4 linked regions of the Homo sapiens genome follow. The protein of the gene in region 1 purifies or fractionates together with the protein of each later gene. This does not show direct contact. Each region holds a gene or a part of one and is shown in the gene's direction. Other genes may lie near its edges. The genes, in order: CREM, IARS1, GCN1 and NAA15.

Region 1 (7,823 bases):
TGAGCCATTTTTTTCCTCTTTCACTAATTCATTTATCATTTTTCTTTATGAAGTGCTTATACGCAAATCTTTTTATTAGATATTTGGAGGAATCTCTTCTCCTTGCGTAAGGTGCTCTGTGTCCTGCTAGGTACGTAGGTTTCACTTCAGAGCTGCAGCTTTGTTGCCAACTTTTCATTTGGGGACTGAGTAATTGCAGATGAGCAGTTCATGTCTTCTTCACTTTGTTGTTCTGTGTTCAAACTCAGATTTATTTAGCAATGCTCCCCAAGGGTGCTGAAAAATATTTTGAGGGTGCATCAGAGAAGATGTGTGATAAACACAGTAATATAAAGATTATAGTGCTGATGCTGTTTTCTTTTTTTTTCTTCTTTTTTTTTTTTTTTTGAGACAGAGTCTCGCTTTGTCGCCCAGGCTGGAGGGCAGTGGCATGATCTCGGGCCATTGCAAGCTCCACCTCCCGGGTTCACGCCATTCTCCTGCCTCAGCCTCCCGAGTAGCTGGGACTACAGGCGCCCGCCACCATGCGTGGCTAATTTTTTTTGTATTTTTAGTAGAGATGGGGTTTCACCGTGTTAGCCAGGATGGTCTTGATCTCCTGACCTCGTGATCCGCCTGTCTCGGCTTCCCAAAGTGCTGGGATTACAGGCGTGAGCCACTGCGCCCAGCCAGTGCTGATGCTGTTTTCATGAATAATCACCTTAGTAGGTAGATATAAATTTATAATCACCTTAGTAGGTAGATATAAATTTATTTTAAATTCGGTATACATAATTCTTGGTAAGATGATATTATTAATGTATCCCTCTCGATTAAACCTTGGCTTTTGTAGATATGATTATTATTGTGGTTGTGATCCAGAGATGTATTTTACCCTTAACATTTCTTGAAGTTAAAACATTTTTTCCATCAATAGATGTAAATTATTAAATATGCATTTTTTAAAGTATGCATCTTAATTACTGAATTTATTTTTGTTCATTTTTAAGGTCAGTTATTATCCTTTAAATGCTGAAATTATTTGAACCTAATTGATGACAAAAAAAAAAATCTGTGAGGAAAATGGAGACACGTATACATAGTATAGTCCTTTTCTTGCGTGTTCAAGTAGTTTATCACAGTAGAATGATAAGAGTGGCGACAAGATACCTGATGTGACAAATTCACATACATTAAAAGCTTGATTATCTTTGTGGCATGGGTATTTTCTCCTGTGTTTCCCAGAAGTGTAAGAATAATTCTCATCATTATCTTTTTTTCCTGTGATGGCCCCTGATTCCAAGAGTTTCTAATTCTTTCTGACACTAATTATAAAACAAGAAAGTCTTTCCAACCTCTTCTTTGTTTTATGACTTTTATTGAGGTCCACATATTTCTACTTAGTTTTAACCTGGCTGGTATTGGAAGAAAGTATTGTCTATTATTATTATTTATTATTTAATAGAGACAGAATTCTCAGTATGTTACCCAGGTTTGTGTTGAGGCCCTGGCCTCAAGTGATCCTCTTGCCTCAGTCTTTCAAAGTGCTGGGATTACAGATGTGAGCCACAGCACCCGGCTGAAAGAAAGTATTCTGTTATATTCAGTAGACTTTGTTTGGATTTTGTTAAGTGAACGATTTAATTGTCCTTGTAGAAAGAGGTGCCAGTGGATCTTGTCCTAGAATACTTACGTGTTGGATCATGGTCAAGCCACTTAATCTCTGTGCATGAACTTTAATTTTCACCTTTCTAAAATAGGTAAATTAATAGCCTACCTCACCTAAGGGAGTTGTTATGATTCTATGACAGATGTGTGACAGCCCGGTGTAAAATGATAAATATTTAATATTTGGTGGTGATATATGATTATCTGAGGCAACAACATTTTTCTCAGTCCTGTTGATTGGGTGTGTGTGCTTATGTGTGGGGCGTTCATGAGCAAAAACACGAGTCATATGTGGAGGTGAATATACACCTCCGTGTACTTCGGGAAGTATATATTCTTGCTTGCATTGTTGATATTTTAATAAGCTCTTTTGATTTTGTCCAAATCAATTTCCCATGTAATTATAATATGAAGTGAGTTTTGTAAACTCTGCTACCCTAGGCCCTCAAAGTATTAATAATTGACTGAATATATCAAAATCAGTCATGTTGTTGAAGAGATTCATTATTTTAGTTTTCTGACTTCTTTAATAATCATATCACTGTATTATTACTTGACTTGAAAAATGAAATCATGCTTAAAACTCTGATCTTTCTCTTAAGGAGAAATGCTTTATTTGGATCTTCAAGACCCACCGCCACCAAGCCCTAACTTACTCCTTGTAATAGAAATCCTGATTTTACCCAGGCTTGCTTACTGACTTGCTTATCTACTTAAATATTCTGTCTTGGGCCTATCTGATGGCTAATGTGAAGACCCAGCTCACGCCAGCGCCAGCTGTGAGAGTGTGGGAACAGCAGTGTGATCCGGGAGCTCTCTTCTGCGTTGGCCCCTCGCTGGCTCCCTCCTGGATTCGTAGGAGCACTTTCAGGTTGAGGAGCTTAGGTCTTGGGTATTTTACATTTTGTTCTTTCCTGCAATGCCTCATTTGACATCCCAACCACTCTTTCCCTAGTATTTCTGTAGTATAGAGTACCCGTAACATTCCTTTCCACACACATTTGTTTTATAACTGAAATGTTTGCGTCTGCGCTTCCTTTCTTGAGCCAGACTCCTTCAGTGCAGATTCACTGTGTTCTATTGCTCAGTTGCTTCCACAGCTCCTGGCTCAGTGCTGCACACACAGACTCTTAGCCTCAATTTTTTGAATGAGGGAAAAGAGCATATATTTTATGATACATTTCAGAAAATCTTGTATTATAGGTAGCAGCAATTGCAGAGACAGATGAATCTGCAGAATCAGAAGGTGTAATTGATTCTCATAAACGTAGAGAAATCCTTTCACGAAGACCCTCTTATAGGTAAGTTAACCAAGTTTCCTAATGTAAAGATACTTTTTCCAAAATGGTAGAATAATTATACATCAAATCAATTCTTCCTTTATAGCTTTTCTGTTTTAAGACTTATTCATGTATCTTAGTGACTTACCTTGTTAAATTGTATTTTAGGAAAATACTGAATGAACTGTCCTCTGATGTGCCTGGTGTTCCCAAGATTGAAGAAGAGAGATCAGAGGAAGAAGGAACACCACCTAGTATTGCTACCATGGCAGTACCAACTAGCATATATCAGACTAGCACGGGGCAATACAGTATGTATGCTGCAATTCGATATGATACAGTGCTAGCTTTAAGTCTTCTCTAGTTATATTGAAGCAACTCAGGTTTTGGCATTAAATTGTTCCATTTTAAAATGCATCATTAATACCTAAACTGTATCATAGAATGAAAGTATATGTTAAAAAGTGAGATCTTTGTATTGACAGCTGTCATATAATTTTGAAAAGTAAAAATTTTGACTGCCGAATATAGAAGAAAATTTTGGGGTAAAAAGGAGAATTTTTCCTATTTACATGTTTATATTAATCTCTAGTAAAACATTGTTTTTGTTGTCTTTATGATGCATGCGAACATAAATGTCTGTATTTCATTCTTGTTGGCTTTTGTTACCCACAATTACATACTATTCTTACTAATCTGAGAGTTTTCTAAAGTATGTTTTCAATGTTTCACTACTCTCTACTCTGTTAATTTGTGCTACAGTTTTTCCTAAAAGAGAATGGAAAAATGATTTAATTTTTTAAACTGTAGCAATTGGATAGATAATTTTATTTGAAATTTTACACACTGAAAGCTCTAAATAAACAGATACATTCACATTCAGTCTTGTGCATTTTAATGGACCGTTAATTCTGTGCTTTTTGCTCTGATTAAAGCACTAGTTTTTTTCCCAAAAGAAGAGTGTTTGATACGTAAAAAGCAAGAGCTAGAAAGAAAAGAAAAAGGAGGAGAAAGGTTAGGGATATCACATATCCTAAGCTAGCCCCTTAGGTACTGGAATAATGTGATATTCCTGTCCTTTCTGAAGTATAAATTGTCCATGGAAGTTGTCTAAATCAATTTCCCATGTAATTATAATATGAAGTAAAGTGAGTTTTGTAAACTCTGCTACCCTAGGTCCTCAAAGTAATTGAACAAATATATTGACAGCAGTCATGTTGTTGAAGAGATTCATAATTTTAGTTTTCTGACTTTAAAAAGAGCTACTTAGGTACTGGAATATATGTGATATTAAATAATGTGTTTATCCAAATAAGGTATTAAGATTTTAGATATATTCTTTGTTTTTCCTTTAAAAAGTAGCAATACCAAGAAAAAAAAACTCAAGTCTTAATTTAAGTCCTGACTACTAAAACAAGCTATAATCTTTAATGTATGAGAAGACTTTATATAGTCATTATTTTTGTGGAGCTTTTTAGAGTTTTTCTTGTAGCAGTGGTAGATTTGCAGTAGTAAACTATTAAATACATTCTCTGTTGGTAATTGAGGGGAACTCCTACCATGATACCTAGCAGATCCGGGGTGTAGTGTATTCACACGTTTGACAGGGCACCCAGTAGACTTGTCCAAAGTCAGTGTTAGGAAAAGAAAATCCCCACCATCTGTAAGAAATAGACCTTGAGGTTTACATTGTCATTTTTTTATTACTTCTCTCGTTTACATGCTCTTTTGTCTGGCACACTGGGAATCTCTGGTGGGTTTTAGAACTGTAAAACTGAATATGCCAGCTGATGAGCCTCTACAGCACAGCACGCAGGTTATGAGAGTGCTGAGTGCCTCGTCCCCCCGTCCCCAGAGGGGCTGGGCAGAAGCTGCTGGCGCCTCCTGGCTGGTCAGCCCTGGCCTTGAGCAGCTCCATCCACTCACCCCAGTGGGCTGTACACATGTCATCATGTTCTGTTTGTGTAATGACAGGGAAAAGGTTGGAAGTGACTGCTGAAATGACACTAAGACTTCTCAAAGTGTTGGGAACCACTAAGATGCTGTCATCGTAACATTTCTCTGGCATATGCTAATGCTACTTAGGACTTCTGATAGAAGCAGTGATTCCTTTACAAGTTGATAGGGAAGCAGATGCTGTAGGGTTAACTTGTCTAGATTATTAGCTGAAAATTTGAAATTGTGAAAATGTATGGGGTTGAAGCTGGAGAGGATGTGGAAGGAACCATCTTTGTGCCATTTGCAAACTCAATGATCAGAGCAAGAAGCTTTATTAAATTCACATCTCAGGTTTTAGTCTTTGAAGTGGGAATAATACTAAATTGCCAAACTCTGGGGTTCCTGTGAAGACAAAGGAGATAATGGGTAAAAGTAGGGGGAAAAAGACATGCTACTATTGGCATGAAACAGAGAAATTAAGTTAGGTGTACCATTGTCTCATTCATGTTCATTGAACTTTCCCTCCAGCCAGCCCCAATGGCTTCATTCCCTGTGTCCTTGGTACCTGCTCACAGCAGGGGGCTGGCCTTAAACCTCACTCTGTGTGTCTGTGGGGGGGATGAGAGGAGCAGAGTCAGGAATTTTGGTTGAGAACTAGAAAACTGCATCTGTAGAAATTAGATCTTAGGCCAGGTGTGATGGCTCCCACCTGTAATCCCAGCACTTTGGGAGGTCTAGGCAATGAGGGTTGCTTGAGGCCAGGACTTTGAGACCAGTCTGGGCAATAGAGTGAGACCCTGTCTCTACAAAAGAATTTTAAAAATTAGCAGGGTGTGGTGGTATGCGCTCATCCCAGCTACTCAGGAGGCTGAGGTGGGAGGATTCTCTGAGCCCAGGAGTTTGAGGCTGCAGTGAGTTATGATTGCACCACTGCACTGTCCAACCTGGGCAGCAGAGTGAGACTCTGTCTCAAAACAACAAACAAAAAAAACACATCTGTCTATTTGCCACATAAGAGGTCATGGACTATTTCTTACTTTGGTTTCTTAATTTGAGTCTATACAGTATGATCCTAGAAATTATTCTGATGAGAAGTTATAGTTCTGTATGTACAGTCTGCAGGTAAAAATTGCCATTTGTTCACACAATGTGAATTTCTTTTGTTAAAAATGCATTTTGGGGACATTTAGTGAAATATATGTAGATAATTCTTTGAGAAGTGAATACTAACAACATTCAAACTTTTTAGAAGACGTTTACTTTAATTGGAGGGTAAACATACTTACACACACAACATCCATTTTTATTGATCTTATTTTTTATAGAACTAACTTAGCAGATATTAATGCTTTAATGTTGTAGCAGAATGTCTAGAAATGGAAACAATTGCCAGTTTCCTTTGGTTTTTGAATAGAGGAACGTATTTTATTAGAATTTCTGGAGATTTTCCTATTTTTTTCCTTCCCTTTGAGCTGTAAATTTTTTTTAATGCTCTTTCATAACCTTTTATTATAAAAAAAAATTTTAGGTTTAATTGTTCAGCTTTTATCCATGGATGGCTTTCTCCCAAACTTTGCTTTTATTTCTTTTTTTCCAATATTTTATTAGTTATTTTTAATTTGGAATAATGAGTTAGCTGGTGTTTAAAAGAACTAAATGTGTATCAAAGTTGAAGAAATAAAGTATATTCAAGTTTTCCCATATACAAGCAGTTACATTTTTAATAGTTGAAAGATATTTGGCAGAAGTTGGCCTTATTATATTGACTTACTATTATCACAAAAACTAAAAAGTGAAAGTTGGAATAGGCTGCTCCCTGGGGAGTAGGAAAAAGCATAAAATAGACAGGGATCCATTATTACAACACCAAGTAAGTGAGCTGTACCTGCAGAATCCTCACTGGAAGTACAGATCTTAGTGATAGGTGTGTTGCATAACAGTTGAGCTGGTCGAAGAAAGTCTTTTATTTCAGAAGCATATACCCGAGAGATGGCGGGAGAGAGACAGCCTTAGAATTAACAAAGAATGTTACTTGCTGCATGAGACAGTTAAGATAGGCAGTAAATGAGTGAATTTGTAAAAGCAACCGAGGAAATTAAAATGTTTGAAGCTTCCTAATTCATTAAATTTCCTCTTGAAACAAAGGTTACTTAAATCCTCCATCCTACTATACCCAACCTCTTCCTGTACCAATTAAAGACTATCACCCAAGACTTCAGTTTTTTTCCCACAAATGGCCCTTGTCTCTGCTTGTGCCTATTGTATTTTACGAGGAATCTTATTAGAGTATTAACTCATCTTTCTGGAATTCTTATACATGAAAGGTAAGTGGGTCAATCTAAACTGCACCATTATGAAAAGAAAAATATGAACTTTGTGGACTCCTTATAAGAATTCAGAATTCTCAGGAGGCTCACGAATAAGCACCAATTCAACTTCTTCATAAAGGGAATTAGAACATAATAGGCTTACACATTCGAAAGTTAATCCAGTTGCAGTTCTTAATAGTGACGTTGTTTACATTTCTCTAAGGCAACTGTTTCAAAATTTTTTAAGGCACTACTTAATGTAACTCTGGCTTTTAAACTTTGATGTTGCTATTGTTGTTATAGCATGATTTAGTCTTCCTTCTGCTATAATGCACCTCTTGGCTTTTAAGGTACAAGTACTCATAGGTGCTCTCTTATGGTCACTCTGAATTTAAACCTGAGAATTCATTGGAACAAAGGTCTGTTTGCTGCTGTTTTTAAAGTTAATGCAGTGAGATTTCATTTATGAATCTTTGGATTGCAATTTGGAACAAGAGTGGTTTTAAATATAAACATTTACATGTGTATGTATTTTAATTAGCTCATGTGTATAAATTTAGGATTAGAAGTATATAACATGGGCCGGGCGTGATGGTTCACGCCTGTAATCCCAGCACTTTGGGAGGCTGAGGTGGGCGGATCACCTGAG
Region 2 (7,823 bases), on another chromosome or scaffold:
AGGAATGCTTAAAGCAATCAAAACATAAACCAAAGTATGTGAATTTTTTAGGTTAAGTTCCCTTAAGAATAGTCATTTCTTAGACTGAATTCCATTAAAGCAGATACTTTTTTTTTTTTTTTTTTTTTGAGATGGAGTCTCGCACTGTCATCCAGGCTGGAGGGCAGTGGTGCAATCTCTGCTCACTGCTACCTCTGCCTCCCGGATGCAAGTGATTCTCCTGCCTCAGCCTCCCGAGTAGCTGGGATTACAGGTGCCCGCCATCACACCAGCTAATTCTTGTGTTTTAGTAGAGACGGGGTTTCACCATGTTGCCCAGGCTGGTCTCGGACTCCTGACCTCAAGTGATCCACCCACCTCGGCCTCTCAAAGTGCTGGGATTACAAGTGTGAGCCATCACGCGCGGCCTAAAGCAGATACTCTTTATTAATCTTTCTATTCCCAGAATCCCCCAGCTCCCTATGTAGTGGGTACTCAGTAGTAGATATACATTGAATGAATGAGTTCTCAATTATTGGGGTAAATTTTGTTTCTTTAAAAGGTCATCTGAGTAAAATTTATGTGTCATCCTCCGTGTCACCCTCTTTCCACCTTTATTTTCATCACCACCCTCGTTTAGGCACTTATACCTAAGTACCCCATAGAAGGCTACTATAGTACTACCTGCCTTTAGTCCTCATTCACCTAAAAGACTAGTCCTTTAATCAGTGTTTTCATTATATGTCTCCTCTGGTCAAAAACTATGAGATAGGGGTTTATTGCCCTATTTTACTGATGAGATAACTCAAGATCAGGATAAATAATTTGCCTTATGTCATGGAACTAATAAATGAAAAATGGATAATCAAATGGAGGTCTCTGTAGCTCTACCACAATTGTAGCCTTTCTGAAGGCAGGACCACCAGTAAATATCAAATCAATTATGTCTGTCGGTTTCCTGATCTTGCTGCTTTTCTCCTTGAAGACTCCACTATGACAAGAGCTATCTATAGAAAAATGCCTTAAATTTTGGCTGTTTTTAAATGGCTTGATATATTTTTATTACCTGTTAGATTTACCTTCTATGATGGTCCTCCTTTTGCAACTGGACTGCCTCACTATGGACATATACTTGCGGGTACAATTAAAGATATAGTTACAAGATATGCTCACCAGAGTGGGTTTCATGTTGACAGAAGATTTGGATGGGATTGCCATGGCTTACCTGTGGTATGTTTGAGTATCCAGCTTTATAATTTTCTGATTTTTTTTATAAGCATTAGATTTTGTCATATAATATGTTCAAGTATGATGAACGTTGACTGTCAGACCTTCTAGTTCATTTCTATAATATTTGTAGTTTGATTTGTTTTGTTTTCTAGAGTTGCATAGTTGCAGTTGTTTTCATAGGGCAGCGTGGTAACAGTCTTATCACAAATTTTCAGGAATATGAAATTGATAAGACACTGGGAATCAGAGGACCAGAGGATGTGGCCAAAATGGGGATTACAGAGTATAACAATCAGTGCCGAGCAATTGTGATGAGATATTCTGCTGAGTGGAAGGTATGTTGGGTTTTTTTCAGTAGAATGAACAGCAAATGTAGTTACTAAATGGGCATTGAAATGGTTTATGGTCCCTTGTGCTTTTTTTATTAATTTATTTTTTGTAGAAAAAGTGTTAGCTTCCACCTTCAACCCTATTACTTAAACGGTTAGCTTAAACTGAACCATCTCTCTTCTGACTTCTGTGTGCTTAATTGGTCTAACTTTCTTGCATGATCACCAATAGGGAAAAATTCTAATAAGTATAACATGATATATAGGCCTTTTCTTTTTTTCTCAAATACTTTTTTCAATTTTTTTAACTTTTCATTTTGAAATAATTTGACTTATTAAACAATTGAAAAAGTAGTATGATGGGTTCCCCTATATCCTTCATCCATCTTTCCCAGCTGCTAACATCTTCGGTAACCATAATATTAATAGAATTTTCAAAAGCAGTTGCCCCATTAATTTTTATTTCTGACCAATCACATATTGCATTTGGTTGTCATGTCTTTTTAGTCTTCTTAAGTATGGAACATTTATTTAGTCCTTTGTATTTCATGGCCTTCTCACTTTTGAAGATTGCAGAACAGCTATTTTCTATAATGTCTCTCAATGTGTGAGGTTTCCTGATTTAATTTAGGTTATGCATTTTTGGTGACAATGCCACAGAAGTGATGCTATGCCCTTCTCAATGCATTATATCAGGTGGCATGTGTTGCGGCTATGTCACATTGATGGTGATAACTTTGTTCACTTGGTTAAAGTGCTGTCAGCTTTCTGCTTTGTAAAGTTGTAGTTTTTCCTTTGTAATTAATAAGTATCTTGTGGGGAGATTCTTTCCAAATATTCTTTTTTTTGTCATACATTCACTTATTAATTTTAACATCCATGGATGGTTTTTGCCAGTAATAATTATGCCTGTGATATTTGCCAAGTGGTGGTTTTGGTAGACTTTTATAAGTGAATATTTATACTTGTAAATAACATTTTGTGCATGTAGGATGAATGCCGAGAAAACTGGTTCTTAACCTTACATAATATGTTGTTGGCAGTATAGATTTACTTGTACCATTGATTATTCTGTTTTCCCAAAATTTTCATTTGTGATGACAACAGAAATAAACACACATTGATGTACAATTATAAATATCATTGTCTAATACTGTTCTAATATTAATATTTTAAAGTCTACTGTTAGCAGACTTGGCCGATGGATTGACTTTGACAATGACTATAAAACTCTGTATCCACAATTCATGGAATCAGTCTGGTAGGTTTATTTAAAATTGTAAATATGGTAAATATTCTATTCTGTTGTATTGATAATTGGAAAAATGCACTAGCATGAATCAGTTTATTTTTGAGTCCATCGTTATTTCTCTGAAAATCTTTGGGAACAGGTTTGTTTTTGAATGTAGAACTTTTATTTTTATTTTTTTGAGACTGAGTCTCGCTCAGTTGCCCAGGCTGGAGGGCAGTGGCACAGTCTTGGCCCACTGCAACCTCCGCCTCTCAGGTTCAAGCGATTCTCTTGCTTCAGCCTCCCAAGTAGCTGGGATTACAGGCGCCCGCCACCATGCTTGGCTAATTTTTGTCTTTTTAGTAGAGATGGGGTTTCACCTTGTTGGCCAGGGTGGTCTCGAACTTCTGACCTAGGTGATCCATCCACCTTGATCTCTCAAAGTGCTACGATTACAGACGTGAGCCACTGCGCCCAGCCTGCCAGTTGCTTTTCTTAACATTATGTGTTAAATATCATTCGATATCAGTAGATATTAGCATTTTAATGTCTGCCTGATGTCTTACTATATTGATCTGTTATAATTTACCAGCCAGTCTCCCAATGAAAGACATTGTTTTTTCACTTATTTGGCAGACAGAAACTCTAAAAAGAAAATGGCATAAATGTTTGCATTTTCAGAAATAGAATTTTGTTCTGTAATTGTGAAACTCCATCTCTTACCAGGTGGGTCTTCAAACAACTCTATGATAAAGGCCTTGTTTATAGAGGTGTGAAAGTCATGCCCTTCTCTACGGCATGTAACACTCCACTTTCCAACTTCGAGTCACACCAGAATTATAAGGTACGTGAAATGTAGAGACATTATTCAGCATTGAGTTTTGTAGGTGGAAGCTGAGTAGTTATGATCACAGTAGGTATTCCCAAGTAGACCCAGTGTGGAATGTTGCCCACGACATCCACCACTTTGACCACTTCTTACTGAGTGCTGGAAATATTGCCAGTTAGTATACTAAGGCTCTGTTAAGATGAGGGATTTTTTTTCCACATTGGATTTATGATGTGTCTTAATGTGATAGGTTTTGCTTGTTTTGACCATATTTTTGTGCCTCTCTGTTGGGTTAACAAGTCCAGCTTTGACATACTTCCTGTAGTCATCGTTTCTTAAGGGTTGAGTAATTTTATGCCTTATCTGGGACCTCATGATATCATTTATTTGTTAACGGTATTTGGAAAAAAATTAATTTGAGATGCCAAATGGTATTATTTTTCCTCTGATGAGATAGAATCAGTTGTTGTTGTTGCTATGATTGAGGTGTTTAGACATGTTTGATGTTTACAGAGTGTATTGTTATACCATATCTAGACAGATATTATATACTAGTAAGTCTTCTGAAATGTGAACCATCTCTTCTCGTGTGTATACTGAGTTGTTTTCAGTTTTGAGAGTTTATCTGACCCTCTGTTTTTAAAGGATGTTGACTTGTTTGGAATTCTTGTTTCATGGCCTAGGTTTGAAAATTACATTAGTAAAATTTGCCTTTCAAAGCACGTTTTATTTATAGAATGCTTTCACATATCCTGTTTGATTGATCTTTGTAAATCCTTGTAAGGCAGGTATGATGATTTCTATTATCTCCTTACCACCTCTCTGTGCTCATGTTTGTATTTTTTTAGTAAAATATTTTAAGCACTTAACAATGTAGAGAATGATATGGTAAACACAAGGTTTCCAAGGCTTACCTTTGTCAAATCTTAATATATTGCTATATTTGGTTTTTGTTTGTTTGTTTGTTTGAGTCAGAGTCTTGCTCTGTCGCCCAGGCTAGAGTGCAGTGGCGCGATCTTGGCTCCCTGCAACCTCCACCTACCCGATTCAAGCAGTTCTTTGCCTCAGCCTCTGGAGTAGCTGGGTTTACAGGTGCCCACCACCACGCATTTTTAGTAGAGACAGGGTTTCACCATTTTGGCCAGGCTGGTCTTGAACTCCTGACCTTGCGATCCACCCACCTTGGCCTCCCAAAGTGTTGGAATTACAGTTGTGAGCCATTGCGCCCGGCCTGTTTGGTTGTTTTTTAAAACACTTGAATGTGGACAGTTTCAGGGACATGCAAAAGTAAACAGAATGGTATAATTAATTTCTGTAGGCCCATTAAGGCCCCCAGCACCAATGACTGGCTAATCTTGCCTCATTCATACACATATTCTTTCCCACTTTCCTTCCAATTCTGAAACAAATTCCAGATATCATATTATTTCATCAAGAAATAATCCAGTATAGATCTTTCATAAATAATCTTTATCTTCTTTAAACATTGCCATGTTAGCATTCGTTGTCACACCTTAAAAAGTCATCAGCAGTTACCTTTTTGTTGTTGTTGTTGTTTTTGAGATAGGATCTCGCTATGTCACCCAGGCTAGAGTGCAGTGGCACGATCTCGGCTAACCACAGCCTTGACCTCCCGGGCTCAAGTGATCTCCCCTTTCAGCCCCCTGAGTAGCTGGGACTACAGGAACATACCACCATACCTGGCTAATTTATGTGTTTCTATAGGAGTGGTTTCACCATGTTGCCTGGGCTGGTCTTGAACTCTTGGGCTCAAGCAGTCCACCCGCCTTGGCCTCCCAAAGTGCTGGGATTACAGGTGTCAGCCACTGCACCTAGCCACCTTTAATAGTTTTTATTTTAATATTCTCAAATTATGTAATTCCTGAACATCATCAGTTCATATTTCTAATGGTTTAATCATTTCCCAAGGGGTTATATTTTATTTTTATTTATTTATTTTTTTAAATCAGGATCTACCAAGACTTAAACACATGGTGACTGTTGTCTTTTAGGTCTTGTACACGTTTCAGTTGGTTATATAACAAGTAGTGGAATTATCGAGTCAGAGTATACTTTGTTTTAATTTTTATTTTTTTGAGACGGAGTCTCACTCTGATGCCCAGGCTGAAGTACAGTGGTGTGATCTTGGCTCATTGCACCCTCCTCCCAGGTTCAAGCAATTCTCCTGCCTCAGCCTCCCGAGTAGCTGGGATTACGGGTGCCCGCCAGCATGCCCAGCTAAGTTTTGTATTTTTAGTAGAGACAGGGTTTCGCCATGTTGGCCAGGCTGGTCTTGAACTCCTTACCTCAGTTGATCCACCTGCCTCAGCCTCCCAAAGTGCGGGTATTTTTACAGGCGTGAGCCACCACGCCCAGGTGAGTCACAGAGTATACTTAATTTTTAGTTCTAATACTGAGGTTGGGAAACTTTCCTCTGCAAATTAAATATTTTAGGCTTTTCAGGCAAAGTGTTCTCAATTTTGTCACCATTCTTAACTCACCCACTGTATGAAACAAGTGATGAGCCAGATTTGGCCCAGGGGCCATGGTTTGCTGACCTCTATTCTACGCGGTCTGTATATTGATTGTTAACCAAGGGTTTTTAAAATTTTTTTGACTTGACCAAGCACAGTGGCTCACACCTGAAATCCTCGCACTTTTGGAGGCCGACCTGGGCAACATGACAAAACCCCATCTCTACTAAAATTACAAAAATTAGCTGGGCGTGGTGGCGTGAACCTTTAGTTCCAACTACTCCACAGGCTGAAGTAAGAGAATGACATGAGCCCAGGAAGTTGAGGTTGCAGTGAGCCGAAAGTGTGCTACTGCACTCCAGCCTGGGTGACAGAGTTAGACTCTGTCTCAAAAAAAAAAAATATATATATATATATATATATGTGTGTGTATGTATATATGTAAGTATACATATATATGTATTGGCTTAAAACTTTTATTTATTTATTTTTAGAGAAGGGATTTCAGTCTGTCACCTAGGCTGGAATGCAATGGTGCAAACACAGCTCACTGCAGCCTTGACCTCCTGGGTTCAAGTGATCCTCCAGCCTCACCCTCCTGAGCAGCTGAGACCACAGATGTGCATCACCATGCCCAGAAAATTTTTTTATCTTTGTAGAGATGGGATCTCACCATATTGCCCCAGCTGGTCTCAAACTCCAGAGCTTGTGCGATCCTCCTGCCTTGGCCTCCCAAAGTGCCAGGATTATAGGCATGAGCCACCGTGCTAAAAAATTTTAATTTTTTACAAAAATTAGCTGGGCATGGTGGTGCACACCTGTAGTCCCAGCTATTCAGGAAACCGAGGCAGGAGAATGCTTGAACCTGGGAGGTGGGGGTTGCAGTGAGCTGAGATCACGTCACTGCACTCCAGCTTGGGTGACAGAGTGAGATTCCATCTCAAAAAAAAAAGAAAAGAAAAAAATTAATTTTGATGTAGTTTCAAACTCACAGAAAAGCGGAGAGTTCTTTATATCCTTCAACTAGATTCCCTAAATGTTAACCTTTTACCACATTTGCTTTATCCTTCTCTCTTTTTATGGGAGTGGGGCACAGTACCCTTTGAGAGTAAGTTGCAGGAATTATGGCCCTTTTCCTCTAAAAACTATATATTTCCTAAAATCAGTAACATTGTTTGAAATAACTGGAGTTAGAAAATTAACATTGATGCTGTATTACCTCATGTGTAGATCTTATTGGGTTCTGCTTGTCCCAGCAGTGTCCTTTATAGTTAACAAGAAAAAAAGAAGGAAAGAAAAACAAAAAAGACCTACATTGTGTGCTTCATGCAGTGGTATGTCTCCAGCCTTCTTTAATCTTAAAGAGCTCTTTAGTCTCTTTATGCCTCATAATACTGACATATTTGAGGAGGTACAGGCCAATAGTAGTGTCTCTTATTTCAAGTTTGTCTGATGTTTTACATGTGACTAATGGCTCTCGTGTCACTTTATTTAAATTGCAGTTGGTTTTTGTTGGGGATTGATTTTTTTTTTCCTACCTTAGAGCTATTTATTTTTAAATCCTTGATATTTTTGTGTTGAAACATTTCCGTAAAGTTGGAGACAATCTTGTTCTTATTTAATGAGCTGAATTTATATGGGTCTGTTACAATTTCAAGTATGTGTTGCTTCAGTAGGATCTTTTTGGTATTTTGGGCAAAAAGATAACCATATTCCAGAACAGTTATCTTTTTGATCTAACTCTTGATGGA
Region 3 (7,823 bases), on another chromosome or scaffold:
GATCATTTCTGCCCATCTCCTTTGGTCTACTTCCAACCCCCCATCCTTGGCAAGCAAATTGTGTATTTGGCTCTAAAGAAGGGTTTGCATGAGGTCTCAGAAAGTAGATGTTTTTTTTTCCTTAAAGCTTTGTTCCAGATTCGGCTCCTGCTCAGCCATAGCACAGTGTTAAGGCTTCAGTCATCCAGGGAAATTGGCCCTTGACTGTGCAGCAGATGATGAATTTTTTGTACATGTGTAAGGTGCTGCTGGCTCTTAATGTTAGGTTGTGTAGGTGTGTGTGAAACAGATAATTTTTTGGTAGTGTTTTGCAAGCACTACAGAGAGTATTTGGGGGCTCTTTAGGGGTAAGAGCATTTGGGGAAGTTAAGTCAGTGATTCAGATAAAGCCTGGGAGGTTTCAGGGCCCTCATTCTGGAGTCCTCCTCTGGGTGCCCTGGGCTTTGCAGGGACTTTACTTCCTGGATTGGTCTCTGTTGACAGATTGCAGCGAGAACATTGGGAGATCTTGTGCGGAAGTTAGGGGAGAAAATCCTCCCCGAGATCATCCCCATCCTTGAGGAAGGCCTGAGGTCTCAGAAGAGCGATGAGAGGCAGGGTGTGTGCATTGGCCTAAGTGAGATCATGAAGTCCACCAGCCGGGATGCCGTGAGTATCTTCCAAGGATCCCGCCAGCTGTGCACTGCAGACGACCTGACTCAGAGGGCGGGGGAGGGCTACTGAAGGAGGTTCACCTCTAGGGGGTTTGTGCTGCCCTCAGGGATGAGCCAGTCTCACTCTGGGGAGGTGCTGGCTGGGCCACATGGACTTGAGGCTCCGTCTTCTCAGCTTTCCTGTCAGTTTTGCAGGCTAAGAGCTAAGTGATTTGGATGCCTCCTTGAGTGGCCTTTGGAAACTGGAGATGATCGCTCTCTTACAACTGTGGAGGTTGCTCAGGATCAGTCTCTTTTGTGATGCTATATAAGTCCAGTTAAAATGTGTGCACCTCCTTCTGGGAAAGGGGATGGACAGCTGTGTGAGTGGGTAGGGCAGGAGGGTGCGGGAGGGGGTGTGCACTCACCCTTAGCAGGAGGGGAGCAGGTAAGAGTTGTGGTGCCAGGTGGGAGGAAGCATATTGCGTCTGGCAACAATACTGTTTCCATAGCAGCAACGTTCAAGGGGTGTGAAGTCCATTACTCTTACTTGGTTCCTGAGTTAAATGATCCTGGAGACCACCCTGGGGAGTAGGTTAGGAGTGCTTTTAGGCACTGCCTTCGTGTTTGGATGAAAACGCCAAAGCAATTAAGTGGATGGCCCGCTAGAAATGTAAGCAAGTGGCCAGTTGCTTGGCTTGGGCATCCTTGTCTGAATTCCTAGGATACCAGATCCCTCTTCTCCTATATTGATGTTTGTCTTACGTTTGGTTTTTAAAATTTACATTTGGCAAGGAATCAAAAGAAATTCTGTCATCAGAAAGAGTTGTGATTCATTGGAGAGGTAGAGTTCCACAGAGGCTGAGTTCTTGTCTGCAAAGTCCCCACAGTCCAATGGCAAGGCCCACATGCCAACCAGTCATTAGAATGCAGAGTGGGCTTTGCTGTGCTGGGATCGTTACTGAGGGAGCAGAGCCATTATTGGCTCCATTGTAGACCCAAAGACTTCATAGAGCACAAAGTCTGGATTGAGACTTGAAGAAGGACTTGGAGTTTTCCAAGAGAATAAGCAAAAGAAAGAGTCCAGGGAGAGAGGGGGCCAGATGCCATGGGAAGGAGTTTGCAGTTCTTAGAGAAGATGGGAGGTATATTGAGAATTCACCTAAAAGATTCAAGCTGTTGATTATTAAGTCTCAGTGAAGGATACATGGGGGTGCATCACATCCTCTCTGCTTTTTTTTTTTATTGAGACGGGGTCTTACTCTGTCACCCAGGCTGGAGTGCAGTGGTGCGATCATAGCTCATTGTAACCTTGACCTTCTGGGCTCAAGTGATCCTCTCGCTATGGCCTCCTGAGTAGCTGGGGACTATAGGTGTGCACCACCACACGTAGCTAATTTTTGCATTTTTAGTAGAGGTGAGGTCTCACTATGTTGCCCAGGCTGGTCTCAAACTCCTGGCCTCAAGTGATTCTCTTGCCTCCACCTCCCAAAGTGTTGGGATTACAGGCGTGAGCCACTGTGCGCGGCCCCTCTCTACTTTTTAATTTTTTTAAAATTTTTAGTTTAAGACAATCTCACTCTGCTGCCCAGGCAGGAGTACAGGGGCACCATCTCTTTTGGCTACAGCCTCTGCTTCCTGGGTTCAAGCGATTCTTGTGCCTCAGCCTCCTGTGTAGCTGGGATTACAGGTGTGCACCACCACACCCAGCTAATTTTTGTATTTTTAGTAGAGATAGGGTTTTGCCATGTTGACCAGGCTGGTCTCGAACTCCTGGCCTCAAGTCATCCGCCCACCTTGGCCTCCCAAAGTGCTGGGATTACAGGTGTGAGCCACCGTGCCCGGCCCCTTCTCTCCTTTTTTTTATTTCACAGTAAAGAGTTAAGTTAAAAGACAAGTCAGGCAAAGAGAGTTAGGGTGGCCTAGCTGGGTCAGAGTCCCCTGCCTGTGCTTCTTGTCTGCTTCTGCTCCTTCTTTGCCTTTCCTGCATCTGGTACAGTTGTAGCTTGCCATTGCAGGTGCTGTATTTCTCTGAATCCCTCGTGCCCACGGCAAGGAAGGCTTTGTGTGACCCACTGGAGGAGGTCAGAGAGGCGGCAGCCAAGACTTTCGAGCAGCTGCATTCCACCATCGGCCACCAGGCTCTGGAGGACATTCTCCCATTTTTACTAAAGCAGCTGGTGAGTGGATCTACCACACACCTACCTACCAGTTTGGCTTTTGCCGTCTTTGTAGATGGAAAATACAGGGCGATTATTCTGCCAAGGCAGTCGCAATGTGGGCCCTCCAGAGGGAGTGGGTATAGCAAGATCAGACTTGGCTTTGTGCTTCGCCTTCGGCAGTGAGGAAATGTGGGTGCAACAGGAGGGAGGGAAACAAGTGGAGAAGGAAGTTGGCGGTGGCTGGTTGAGACAGCAGAGATGCAGATTCCTCAGGGTTGTCCCCAACACCCTCTGCAGGATGACGAGGAGGTGTCAGAGTTTGCCTTGGATGGTCTGAAGCAAGTCATGGCTATTAAGAGTCGTGTGGTGCTGCCCTACCTTGTGCCCAAGGTAAATCCCAACATGTGGTCAACACCCTCTGGCTCCAGGGCATTGACATTTCCAGGGCCTGCAGTGAAGACCAGTTCTGAACGTAGATGTTGGAGGGCTGGGGGAGGAGGGTGCAGTGCAAGCATTACATCCTTCCCCTGTTGTCTTCCAAGATATGCTGGAGTAGATGCTTGGCTCTGAGCAGTGGGCTTGGGCTCTCTTGCCCACCCGTCTGTTCCCAGAGCCTAGCGCAGCACCTGGCACAGTATTCACTGAGTTAATGTTTGTCATTCCACCAGCTGACAACGCCACCTGTCAACACCCGGGTGCTGGCTTTCCTTTCGTCAGTGGCTGGTGATGCCCTCACCCGTCATCTTGGCGTGATCCTCCCAGCGGTCATGCTGGCCCTGAAGGAAAAGCTTGGGACCCCAGATGAGCAGCTGGTAAGGGGCGAGCCTGCTCCTGCTTTCTCATGTCCCGTCTGCCCGGAGGATCCCTGCTCAGCACACATGTCCCTTGTGGTTTGCAGGAGATGGCCAATTGTCAGGCTGTGATCCTCTCCGTAGAGGATGACACAGGGCACCGGATCATCATCGAGGATCTGCTGGAGGCCACCCGCAGCCCTGAGGTGGGCATGAGGCAAGCTGCTGCCATCATCCTCAACATCTACTGTTCCCGCTCAAAGGCTGACTACACCAGCCACCTGCGGAGCCTGGTCTCGGGCCTGATCCGCCTCTTCAATGACTCCAGCCCTGTGGTTCTGGAGGAGAGCTGGGATGCCCTAAATGCCATCACTAAGGTGAGGGGACTGCTGACCCCACAGCCAACTTTTGCTTTTAGAAAATTCCAGACATTTACAGGAATAGACTTATAAGAATCCCCCACGTACCTGTCACTCAGCTTCGGCGTTTACCCACTCGTGGCAAGTCTTGTTTATACTCCCGCCCACGCTTTCCCCATATATTCTTTGGAAGCAGTCTTGAGAGGGCTGTACATCCTCTCGCTTTTTCCTGGATTCCTGCAGAAGCTGGATGCTGGCAACCAGTTGGCACTCATTGAAGAGCTGCACAAGGAAATCCGGCTCATAGGGAACGAGAGCAAAGGCGAGCATGTGCCAGGATTCTGCCTCCCGAAGAAGGTAAGCCAGGGCCTCGTGCAGGGGGCTGTGGGCGTGCAGTCTGTTGTGCCCTTCTGGCCCTTACCCCTGTCCCAGGTCTGCGGTAGGGGCTGCTGGAGCAGTAGCCGTGGTGGTTGGTGTTCAGCACCTTCGCAGACAGCATGTTTTCTTCCATGGCAGTCAGATGGGGACAGGGTTCATGCTGCCTTTGGTTTAAGCTCTGCAGGTCACCTTGGCCAGAGTGAGTGGGCCACAGGGTAACAGCAGTGCATGTTCTCTCTGTGTGATAGGCCTGTTGGGGCCCTTGTCGTCTTTTCTCTGCCAAGACCGTTCCATAGCCAGCCCTCTCAGGCTGTGATCCTGAGATTCAGCCCAAATCAATATCTCCCATGGAGTTGAGGGGAGGACAGCTGTCAGGACCACTTTGCTTGCATGGGAGACACCAGGGCCCAGGGTGTTTGAGATTTGACTCTCAGTTGTGGTTCTCTTGTCAGGGAGTGACCTCCATCCTTCCAGTGTTGCGGGAAGGAGTCCTGACTGGCAGCCCTGAGCAGAAGGAGGAGGCAGCCAAAGCCTTAGGCTTGGTAATCCGCCTGACCTCGGCTGACGCCCTGAGGCCCTCCGTGGTCAGCATCACTGGCCCTCTGATCCGCATCCTGGGGGACAGGTTCAGCTGGAATGTGAAGGCGGCTCTGCTCGAGACACTCAGCCTCTTGTTGGCTAAGGTGAGTGGCTGATGAGTTTGTTCAGATCTTAGAGAACAGGTCTGTCTGCAGGAGCCTGATACAAGGTGTCATGTAGCAGCAGGGCAACAGATTTATTGTGGAGAGCCGCATAGCAGAGGGAGGTAAGACCTTGGACTTCAGACATGCTACACCATGGGTCAATTCCAAGTCGTCCTTACTAGCTCTGTGACCAGGATGACCTTGGGAAAGCCATATAACCTAAGCCTGTTTCCTCACCTACAATGTGAGACTAATAATACCAGCTGCCTCATGAAGGGCTGCTAGATATGGGGATTAGATGAGGTTATGTCCAGCATGATGCCTGCTACATACTAAGCACTCAGTACATGTGAAATGCTATTATTTTGAAAAACTACTTTTTCAAAGGAAAAAATTCAGGACCACGTAAATACAAGGAAAACATTGTTTAAAGATATTGCAGTTTTTGTTTTTTTTTGTTTTTTGTTTTGTTTTGTTTTGTTTTTGAGACAGAGTCTAACTCTGTCACCCAGAGCTGGAGTGCAGTGGCGCGATCTCGGCTCACTGCAACCTCCGCCTCCTGGGTTCAAGCAATTCTTCTGCCTCAGCCTCCCAAGTAGCTGGGATTACAGGTGTCTGCCACTACACCTGGCTAATTTTTTTGTATTTTTAGTAGAGACAGGGTTTCACCAGGCTGGTCTCGAACTCCTGACCTCGCACAGCTCAGATTTACCAGCTCCCCCTATCCCCTTTGTGTGCCTGCCACAGCCTGCACACCCACCCAACTCCAGTATTTCCAGACCTTCATTGGCACTGAACCTCCAAACAGTCACTCTGGTTTTCCTAATTAACAATAAGTAAGCCGGGCGTGGTGGCTCAAGCCTGTAATCCCAGCACTTTGGGAGGCCGAGGTGGGCAGATTACCTGAGGTCGGGAGTTCGAGACCAGCCTGACCAACATGGAGAAACCCTGTCTCTACTGAAAATACAAAATTAGCCGGGCATTGTGGCGGGTGCCTGTAATCCCAGCTACTCAGGAGGCTGAGGCAGGAGAATTGCTTAAACCCGGGAGGCGGAGGTTGCAGTGAGCTGAGATCGCGCCTTGCACTCCAGCCTGGGCAACAAGAGCGAAACTCCGTCTCAAAAAAAAAACAAAACAAAAAACAGTAAGTAAATCTTTACTCTTGGACCCACCTGTATTGTATCAAAAGTGTGCCTGTGTTTCTGTATAGTCAGGGGTTGAACTGGATTTTTAGTTAGGTGGGTACACATTTGTGCAGGGAGGATTCTCCAAGGTCATTTGTTTCACAGGCTTGTTCTGAGGGCTGAATGTGGAGTGCGTATCCTGCTGTCAGTTGCTCAGTAGATGGGCTCTGCAATTATACACTGAGTCCCTTTCCCTGTCTTGGCATTAGAACTGTGCTTCAGTACTGCCGATAGTCTGCCCTGCTTGTTAATGTATTCAGAGGAGGATTTGAGTCACTTATCGATATGGACAGGTCTCCACTAAGCCAAACCCCAACGCAGCCAAGGCTGCGAGACAGCTCCCTCAGATAGCGGCCGCCGCCTCCTCGGCCTCCTGCTCCTCCAGTGTATCAAAGCATGCTGGATATGACCAGGAGGCCAAGCGAAACCTGTCTGTGTTTGGCCTCTCTGACGGGCTATCTGTCCCCAGCCCTGTATGAGAGCTGGACTCGCTGTGGTGGTTTGGGATTGTCATTTGTTCTCATGCCTGTGGTACACTGTGGCTTTGGGTCTACCACAACTGTCTTTCATGGATGTGGGTTCCTCCCACAGGTTGGGATTGCCCTGAAGCCCTTCCTGCCCCAGCTGCAGACCACTTTCACCAAAGCCCTGCAGGACTCCAACCGGGGGGTGCGCCTGAAGGCCGCAGATGCTCTGGGGAAGCTCATTTCCATCCACATTAAGGTGGACCCCCTCTTCACAGAGCTGCTCAATGGCATCCGCGCCATGGAGGACCCAGGTGTCAGGTACGGCGCTGGCAAGGGAGCACTGTGGCCTCCAGGAGGCCAGGGGTTGCTGTGGGCCGAGCCTGCGCTGGCAGGAGGGGTGGTGGTGGAGGCACCCAGGGCTTAAGGCGGTGCATTGCTTCTGCAGGGACACCATGCTGCAGGCCCTGAGGTTTGTGATTCAGGGAGCAGGGGCCAAAGTGGATGCCGTCATCCGGAAAAACATCGTCTCACTCCTGCTGAGCATGCTGGGACACGATGAGGTACGGCTGCAGGCAGGACTAGTGGCAGCACTGGACCACTGGTTTCCCTCCTCCTCCTTAGGTTGAGTTCTTCACTTTGTGTTAGAACCAGTACAGCTCAGTAGTAATAAGCATTCCTGACATTTCTATCACCCTGTATGCTTCACCAACATTTCCTCGGGTTTCAAGGGAAACGGGGCAGGTATTGTGGATATATTGGTTATTTCCGTTTGTTTGTTTGTTTTTTGGCTGAGTCTTGCTGTGTCACCCAGGCCGGAGTGAAGTGGCACAATCTCGGCTCACTGCAGCCTCCGCCTCCTATCAAGCGATTCTCCTGCCTCGGTCTCCCGAGTAGCTGGGATTACAGGTGTCCGCCACCATACCCAGCTAATACTTGTACTTTTAGTAGAGATAGGGTTTCACCATGTTGGTCAGTCTGGTCTCAAACTCCTGACCTCAGGTGATCCACCCGCCTCGGGCTCCGAAAGTGCTGGGATTAACAGGCATGAGCCACCGCGCCCGGCCGGTTATTTCTATTTTATAGATGAGGCAAGTAAGCTTTGTAGAGACCCAGACCTCTCACCTATTTGCTCTCTGATCTTAAAGAAGTCACTTTCTCTGTCTGCCT
Region 4 (7,823 bases), on another chromosome or scaffold:
CTCGTCTCAAACTCCCAGCCTCAAGTGATCCACCCGCCTTGGCCTCCCAGAATGCTGGGATTACAGGCCTGAGCCACTGCTCCTGGCTGCTTGGTAACTTGTTAAATCATTCCTGCAGCATTCAACTTTTGAGCTGCTACTTTGTTAGTTGTACTGTACTTGTTATGATAAACTTAAGTAGGAAATACAGTTAGTTTGTATTTCAAAATAAACATTTTTTTCCTTAAATTTTTAATGGAAACCTGCTTTACACATAAGTTTGCAAAAATTTTAGAGTTTCTGCAGTGGATTTGCCTGGCTTGATCTAGTCTAGTTGATCTCTAAAATTCAGTTTTGTTGTATATTTTTCTCTTTTTTCCAATATTACTCTTCTGTTTTCTGACTAAAGCATTGTCCTAAGTTAGTCAAAATGCTTGCATAATGTTTCTTGCTGATAATTTGTCTAGAAAAAGGATGGGATGAATTTAATGTGACATATACTATGTAAGAGTTTATTTTATTTTGTTTGTTTTTTGAGACAGTTTTGCTCTGTCACCCAGGCTGGAGTGCAGTGGTGTGATCTTGGCTCACTGCAACCTCCACCTCCTGGGTTCATGCCTCAGCCTCCCAAGTAGCTGGGATTACAGGCGCCTGCCACCACACTCGGCTAATTTTTTTTTTTGTATTTTTAGTAGAGATGGTGTTTCACCATGTTGGCCAGGCTGGTCTTGAACTAGTGACCTCAAGTGTTCTGCCTGCCTCGGCCTCCCAAAGTGCTGGGATTACAGGCATGAGCCACTGCACCTGGTCCTATGTAAGAGTTTAAGGAAGACTTGTGTTTGCCAGAAGCTGGTTTTTTTTTTTTTGGTCTGGTTTTTTTTTTGTTTTGTTTTGTTTTGTTTTGTTTGTAATTACAAACTTTTAACTTATTTGGAAAATTAAGTCATTAGAAAATTGTGGCCTTTGCCTACTGTTGATGCTATTTGTTTATCTAAAAGTTTGAGGAGGTTACCAGATATTTATACCACTTTGTTAGGATCTAGGTTAAGGGTAGGAAAAATGAGGTTGCCAGAGTAGAACAAAATCCACACCTTAGATTTTAACCTGCTTGGAAAAGATGGACATATCCTAATGCCTTTCAATCAAGTATTGGTAGGTTGGTTGCTGTTGCTGCTGCTTCCTTCTCTCTTTTTTGCTCTTCAAATGTTAATGTCAGTTATAAGAAAAATCTAAGTTGGGAATAGTTAAAATATTGTACATCAATAAATGTAGTTTTGGACTTTAGCCTGAATGATTTAAATTGTTAGTTGTAAGTGTTAAAGGACAGAATTTTTCTTTCCTAGAAAAGTGGTGAGAGAAGTTAAAATAGCATGATGATTATGTTTGTGATTTGTCACTATTTGCCAGGTAAAATGAGAAATCTACCATTTGCCAGGCTCTGCTCTAGGTGCTTTAGAATAGCACTGCACAGTAGAATTTTCTGTGATGATGGAAATATTTGTTATCTGCTCTAATATGATAGCCATTGGCCATGTGTAGGTTTGTTTTTTGTTGTTTTTGTTAAGACAGGGTCTAACTCTATCACACAGTCTGGAGTGCAGTGGTTTGATCACGGCTCACTGCAGCCTCCACCTCCCGGGCTCAAGCTATCCTCCTAGCTCAGTCTCCCGAGTAGCTGCGACTACAGGCGTGCCACCACGCCTGGCTAATTTTTGTATTTTTGGTAGAGACGGGGTTTCGCCATGTTGGCCAGGCTAGTCTTGAACTCCTGGGATCAAGCAGTCCTCCTGCCTTGGCTTCCCAAAGTGCTGGGATTACAGATGTGAGCTACTGTGCCTGGCCTGGCCACATGTAATTATTGCACACTTGAAATATGGCTAGTGCAACTGAGGAAATGAATTTTTAATTAATCTTAATTTAAATTCAAATAGTCACATGTGGTGAATGGTTACCGTTTTGGACACAGCATGCTTTATTTAGAGTCCTTTCTTAATTCTCAAAACTTTTCAAGGTGGGGACATTTTTATTAAGCAAACAGACTGAGATTAAGGTCAACAGCTAGTGTTAGTTACAGTCTGGAATAAAACTTTTTTTCTTTTCAGGGCACTTAACATCACACCTGCCTAGTGTTTAACTATTTAGGGGAGGGGTGTAGGAGGAGGGTGAGGGAATTGTTAGGCAAAGGAGTAGTAATACTTATTAGGTGGCTGTATACATTGTATAATAAGTAAATTATTATTATTATTATTATTTTTTTGAGACGGAGTCTCACTGTTGCCCAGGCTGGAGTGTAGTGGTGCAATCTCGGCTCATTGCATGCTCTGCCTCCCGGGTTCACGCCATTCTCCTGCCTCAGCCTCCTGAGTAGCTGAGACTACAGGCACCTGCCACCACACCCAGCTAATTTTTTGTATTTTTAGTAGAGACGGGGTTTCACCGTGTTAGCCAGGATGGTCTCGATCTCCTGACCTCCTGATCTGCCCGCCTTGGCCTCCCTAAGTGCTAGGATTACAGGCATGAACCACCGCGCCCGGCCCATTGTATAATAGGTAAATTATTTTATGTGATTTATTTTCTTTGGGAAAGTTAATGTTTCTGCTAGTTAATGATACTTAGTTTAGCTTCAGTTGCTGATGAAATTTAGATTAGGAATTGTTAGCAAGTAGGTGTCCATATGCACATGAAAGTTTAACTGATTAATTTCTTTGTGACAGAATTCCAGTTTTGCAACTAAGAGTGGACAGTAACTTTGAAATTGGTTTTAATATACTTTTGCTTGTACTTCATATATTTAGAATATAACAAAAAATCAAAAAATGGAAACAAAGTTTGGTCTGTTCTGAAATCCCATTCAGCTCTTAGTAGTTAATCATAAGTTTATTTATTTTTTTGAGATGGAGTCTCACTTTTGTCGTCCAGGCTGGAGTACAGTGGCGTGATCTCAGCTCACTGCACTCTCCGACTCACTGCAACCTCCACCTCCCAGGTTCAAGTGATTCTCCTGCCTCAGCCTCCCCAGTAGCTGGGATTACAGGTGTCCACCACCACACCCAGCTAAGTTTTATATTTTTAGTACAGACAGGGTTTCGCCATGTTGGCGAGGCTGGTCTCAGACTGCTTACCTCGGGTGATCCACCCACCTCAGCCTCTCCCAAGTGCTGGGATTACAGGCGTGAGCCACCGCACCCTGCCGGTAATCGTAAATTTAAACTCGGATAAATTATCCCTTAAAAGTATACCAGAAAACAAAATGCAGTTTTGCTATTTTATATATGTGTATATAATGTGTATATAATTATTATAAAAATTACAAAATGATTTTTCTGTAAAAATCGAGTGAGGGCCGGGCACAGTGGCTCACGCCTGTAATCCCAGCACTTTGGGAGGCTGAGGCGGGTGGATCACCTGAGGTCAGGAGTTAGAGACCAGCCTGGCCAACATGGTGAAACCCCGTCTTTACTAAAAATACGAAACTTAGCTGGGCGTGGTTGCAGGCACCTGTAATCCCAGCTACTTGGGAGGCTGAGGCGGGAGAATTATTTGAACCCAGGAGGTGGAGGTTGCAGTGAGCCGAGATCGCGCCATTGCTCTCCAGCCTGGGGGACAAGAGTGAAACTTCGTCTCAAAAAAAAAAAAAAAAATCTAGTGAGAAGTGAAAATCTTTTAATAATGTGGTAAATTTATTCTTTGCTTGCTTTTTAAGTGTGTGTGTGTGTGTGTGTGTGTGTGTGTGTGTGTGTGTGTGTCCAGGATTTCACTGTGTTGCCCAGGCTAGTCCTGAGCTCAGGTGATCCTCCTGCTTCAGCCTGCCAAGTAGCTGAGATTATGGTACATGCTACTGCGCCTGGCCTGTTTGCTTACTTTTTAATTTTTGTCTTTCTGGAGTGAGATGCAGTATGAATGAACAAATATATGTTTTTGTTTTAAACTGACAGCATATATTTTTAAAATTCTGTATTGTGTTAGAAACCTGAAATGTTTTAAAAAATATTTTTTAAAAATTCTTTTGCGTCAATAGAGTGGGTTAAAAATACTTGTTTGTGCAGAGTGACCACAGTTCAGTTTTCAATAGTAGTAGATGGACAACACTATATTTTCAGAAAAGCAGACTAAAGCTTAAAAGGGAACTGAATTTAATGTTCCATTTTTTAGATGTGTCAAAGTCTTGCAGTCCTGGGTCATTATTGGGGCTCAAACTAGTTATTTGATGATAATAGAATTGCCATCCAAACTATTGGAGCGCTGGTTAATGAACAGTTTCCAGAGGGGCGGGCATGGTGCTCGGTGTGATTGGGGGACTGGAGAGATACTGTCCAGCTGGCCTCAACTGAAGGGATCCCTCTCCTTAGTGTGCAGTCTTATATCTTTTAATATTTCTGCTTCTGACAATGAAGTTCTGACAGAGCATTGATTCAAATATATCTTCTTTCTTCATAAAAACATTTTTGGGCCGGGCGCGGTGGCTCACGCCTGTAATCCCAGCACTTTGGGAGGCCGAGGCGGGCGGATCACGAGGTCAGGAGATCGAGACCATCCTGGCTAAAACGGTGAAACCCTGTCTCTACTAAAAATACAAAAAATTAGCCGGGCGTAGTGGCGGGCGCCTGTAGTCCCAGCTACTTGGGAGGCTGAGGCAGGAGAATGGCGTGAACCCAGGAGGCGGAGCTTGCAGTGAGCCGAGATCCCGCCACTGCACTCCAGCCTGGGCGACAGAGCGAGACTCCGTCTCAAAAAAAAAAAAAAAACATTTTTGGACATAAAAAGCTATGTCGTATAAAGGATCATATGCAAAGGACTGTTCAGAATTTTCTCCCCCAGATACCTGTGTGACTCATTTTTCTTATTTGTTTTAGGACTTCTGCTCAGATGTCCTTTATTTTTAATTTTAAATTTATTTTTATTATTATTTTTTGAGACAGGGTTTTGCTCTGTCACTCAGCCTAGCATGCAGTGGCACAATTTTAGTTTACTTCAGCCTCTGCCTCCTGGGTTCAAGTGATTCTCCTGCCTCAGCTTCCTGAGTAGCTGGGATTCCAGGTGCCTCCTACCACACCTGGCTAATTTTTGTATTTTTAGTACAGGCGGGGTTTCACCATGTTGGCCAGGCTGGTCTTGAACTCCAGGCCTCAGGTGATCCACCTGCCTCGGCCTCCCAAAATGCTGGAATTACAGGTGTGAGCCATTATGCCTGGCCTAATTTAAAAAATTTTGAGACAGAGTCTTACTCTGTTGCCCAGGCTGGAGGGCTGGAGTGCAGTAGTGTGATCTCGGCTCACTGCAACCTCTGTCTCCTGGGTTCAAGCGATTCTCCCACCTTAGTCTTCTGGGTAGCTGGGACTACAGGCACATGCCACCATGCCTGGCTAAACAGGTGTCCTTTAAATGTTATTTAGAGACCTTCCTTGGCTAGCAGTCAGTCCTTCTCACCTTATTTTCTTATTTCTTACTTTATTCTCATTTATCAGCTTCTGACATACATTTACTTTTATGTTTATCACGTTTTCCACAATTAAAATGTAGGGTTTATGAAGATAAGGACGTCTGTTAATGGCTCTATTCACATTGGTTAAAATGATGTACCATAGTAGATGTTTAATAAATATTTGTTATGTGAAGTGAGTGTGAAAATAGTGATTACAGGGCAAGAGAGAAAAAGATCTTTGGATTGTGTGCTTGCATAAATTTTTGGAGAAGGGAGTTAAGCTGGGCTTTGGCATTACAGAGTACATTAGTGTATGAAATAATTGTAGGATATTGGGCAGAGCCTATATTATGGTAAGACTTTGAAGTTTAATTTATAAATGAATTATAGTATTTGTTTATATAGCCTTTCATCACAAAAGCATAATAAGAGGAAAATTTTGTTATTGTTTCTTTGGTTTTGGCATTGGAGGAGAAATGGTATCAGGATTAAATGAGTTTGTTGTGAGGAGCCTGCTGCTGTATTAGAATCTTCAGATAGTAGGGCTCAGCCATACGTCATTTCATAAAGCTTTACAACCGATTCTGACACGAAGTCAGGGTTGATGACCACTATATATGATATTAAGAAATAGACCTGTTATAAAATTTAAAATATAAAATGTTAGAAGAGCTGGGCGCAGGGGTGCATGCCAGTTACTCAGGAGTCTGAGGCAGCAAGATTGGTTGAGCTCAGGAGTTGAAGGCTATAGTTTGTGATTATTGCGCCTGTGAATTGCTACTGCACTCCAGCCTGGGCACCATAGCGAGACTCTATCTCTTTAAAAAAAAAATTTGAGGGAAAGTAATCGTAGTGTTAGAGTTGCTTTGTGTTTTTCAGAAAATTTAAAAATCAAGTTTAATTCTTGGTATGCTGGGAAGCTGATGTGGAAGAGAGAACAAGTCACATAACAGTGAGCTTAGCCAGCAATCAGCATTCATATCTAAATACAATTTTGCTCTCTATTTACAGGCAATATCCTGTTGAGGAGACAAACTTAAGATTCTTAGTGAGAAATAGTTCTGAAAAGAATGTCAGTTGCCAATTCTGATAGTAAGAAGGGTGAGTGAAGAGGCTTAAATTCAGTAATAGTTCTCAGTGTAAATGTTAGGGTGTGGAAGGAATTTTATGCTGTGGTTGTATTCTTGACTTTTGGAAATTTCCCTGAAATGCCAGCTGTAGGCTTAAACATCTAAGTTGTTTTATGATACATGCTGTACAAACTTGTATTAAAGTTGTAACTTTAAGAACACTAGTCTAACTTGTTGCCTGTGGTTTTTTTCCTCCTAGGTAAGATAGGAAATTATATTGTTCACTACTTAATATGGCATTAAAATAATCCCTTACACTTTTAACTAAAGCAATCTTTTCTTTCCTTGTTATTTAGAAGTAAAATAGCTTGTAATCCCATCGCTTTGGGAGGCCAATGTGGAAAATCTCTTGAAGTCGGGAGTTTGAGACCAGCCTGGGCAACATAGCAAGGCTCTGTCTCTGTAAAAAATGAAAAAGTTACTTGGATGTGGTGGTGGTGCAAACCTGTAGTCCTAGCTACTTGGGAGGCTGAGGTGGAGGACCGCTTGAGCCTAGGAGTTCAAGACTGCAGTGAGCTATCATCATGCCACTGCACTCCAGCCTGGGTGACAGAATGAGACCTTGTCTGGGGGGGAAAAAAAAAGTAAAATAAAAATTGCAGTGTAAGAATTAAATGATGGACAGGTTGATGTTTTTGTTATCTGATGGGCTCTACTGCACTTTCTTTGGTTAGTATAATATGAACAAATCTTCAGTTGAAATAATGTGAAATTTCTACTGAAACACCTTGGGGAAATAATATTATTTGAAGCCAGTATTATTTTTAATTTTAAAGATTCCATTTGATTTTATTACAGAGGAGATTATGTAAACATTCCTGAGTGGCATCTGTAAGAGTTGTTTTATCTGATTACATAAAAGGAGAAGTGAAAGTTTGCTTTTAAAAACAGTAGACCTAGGGAAAAAAAGCCTGGCCTTGGTTGGTTGTCTCCTTTTACACATGGTTGCTGTTCAAATTCAAAAACTTTTTTTTCCTCTCACAATAAAATGGCTAAAATGGCTTACACTTAAAATGTTACTCTATTTTTCAAAGAGAACTTGTTGGGTAGTACAAGATTACCTTTAATTATCAATGTTTGAGGACCAAGTTAGAATTTTTAAGAAGGGGAACATTAAGCAAAGCAGTATTTATTTAGTATCTATTTTGAGCCAGATTTTATGCTAGACTTTTTACATGTTAGCTGATATAAACTTTGTGACACTCCCTTAAGGAAATTGTAAGTATAGCCAATACTTAATGACTACATTGTTACAGTATATTTCTTTCTTTTTTTTTTTTTTGAGACGGAGT

The links.
Region 2: the proteins of CREM (region 1) and IARS1 purify together in Homo sapiens (affinity purification with mass spectrometry, with the first as the bait; one study listed by BioGRID). This does not show direct contact.
Region 3: the proteins of CREM (region 1) and GCN1 purify together in Homo sapiens (affinity purification with mass spectrometry, with the first as the bait; one study listed by BioGRID). This does not show direct contact.
Region 4: the proteins of CREM (region 1) and NAA15 purify together in Homo sapiens (affinity purification with mass spectrometry, with the first as the bait; one study listed by BioGRID). This does not show direct contact.

Annotation. Positions count from the first base shown.
Region 1 is NC_000010.11:35,176,039-35,183,861, forward strand, and holds part of CREM (cAMP-responsive element modulator), read left to right. Parts: intron 1-2,833; exon of another isoform or gene 2,834-2,850; coding exon 2,851-2,948; intron 2,949-3,095; coding exon 3,096-3,238; coding exon of another isoform or gene 3,239-3,291; exon of another isoform or gene 3,292-3,809; intron 3,810-7,823.
Region 2 is NC_000009.12:92,281,512-92,289,334, reverse strand, and holds part of IARS1 (isoleucine--tRNA ligase, cytoplasmic), read left to right. Parts: coding exon 1-34; intron 35-1,052; coding exon 1,053-1,209; intron 1,210-1,361; coding exon of another isoform or gene 1,362-1,424; coding exon 1,425-1,544; intron 1,545-2,716; coding exon 2,717-2,799; intron 2,800-3,495; coding exon 3,496-3,613; intron 3,614-7,823. UniProt on the Homo sapiens protein: Catalyzes the specific attachment of an amino acid to its cognate tRNA in a 2 step reaction: the amino acid (AA) is first activated by ATP to form AA-AMP and then transferred to the acceptor end of the tRNA.
Region 3 is NC_000012.12:120,133,684-120,141,506, reverse strand, and holds part of GCN1 (stalled ribosome sensor GCN1), read left to right. Parts: intron 1-483; coding exon 484-648; intron 649-2,650; coding exon 2,651-2,812; intron 2,813-3,091; coding exon 3,092-3,184; intron 3,185-3,462; coding exon 3,463-3,606; intron 3,607-3,692; coding exon 3,693-3,962; intron 3,963-4,187; coding exon 4,188-4,301; intron 4,302-4,774; coding exon 4,775-5,005; intron 5,006-6,780; coding exon 6,781-6,974; intron 6,975-7,101; coding exon 7,102-7,216; intron 7,217-7,823. UniProt on the Homo sapiens protein: Ribosome collision sensor that plays a key role in the RNF14-RNF25 translation quality control pathway, a pathway that takes place when a ribosome has stalled during translation, and which promotes ubiquitination and degradation of translation factors on stalled ribosomes.
Region 4 is NC_000004.12:139,305,746-139,313,568, forward strand, and holds part of NAA15 (N-alpha-acetyltransferase 15, NatA auxiliary subunit), read left to right. Parts: intron 1-7,823. UniProt on the Homo sapiens protein: Auxillary subunit of N-terminal acetyltransferase complexes which display alpha (N-terminal) acetyltransferase (NAT) activity. The NAT activity may be important for vascular, hematopoietic and neuronal growth and development.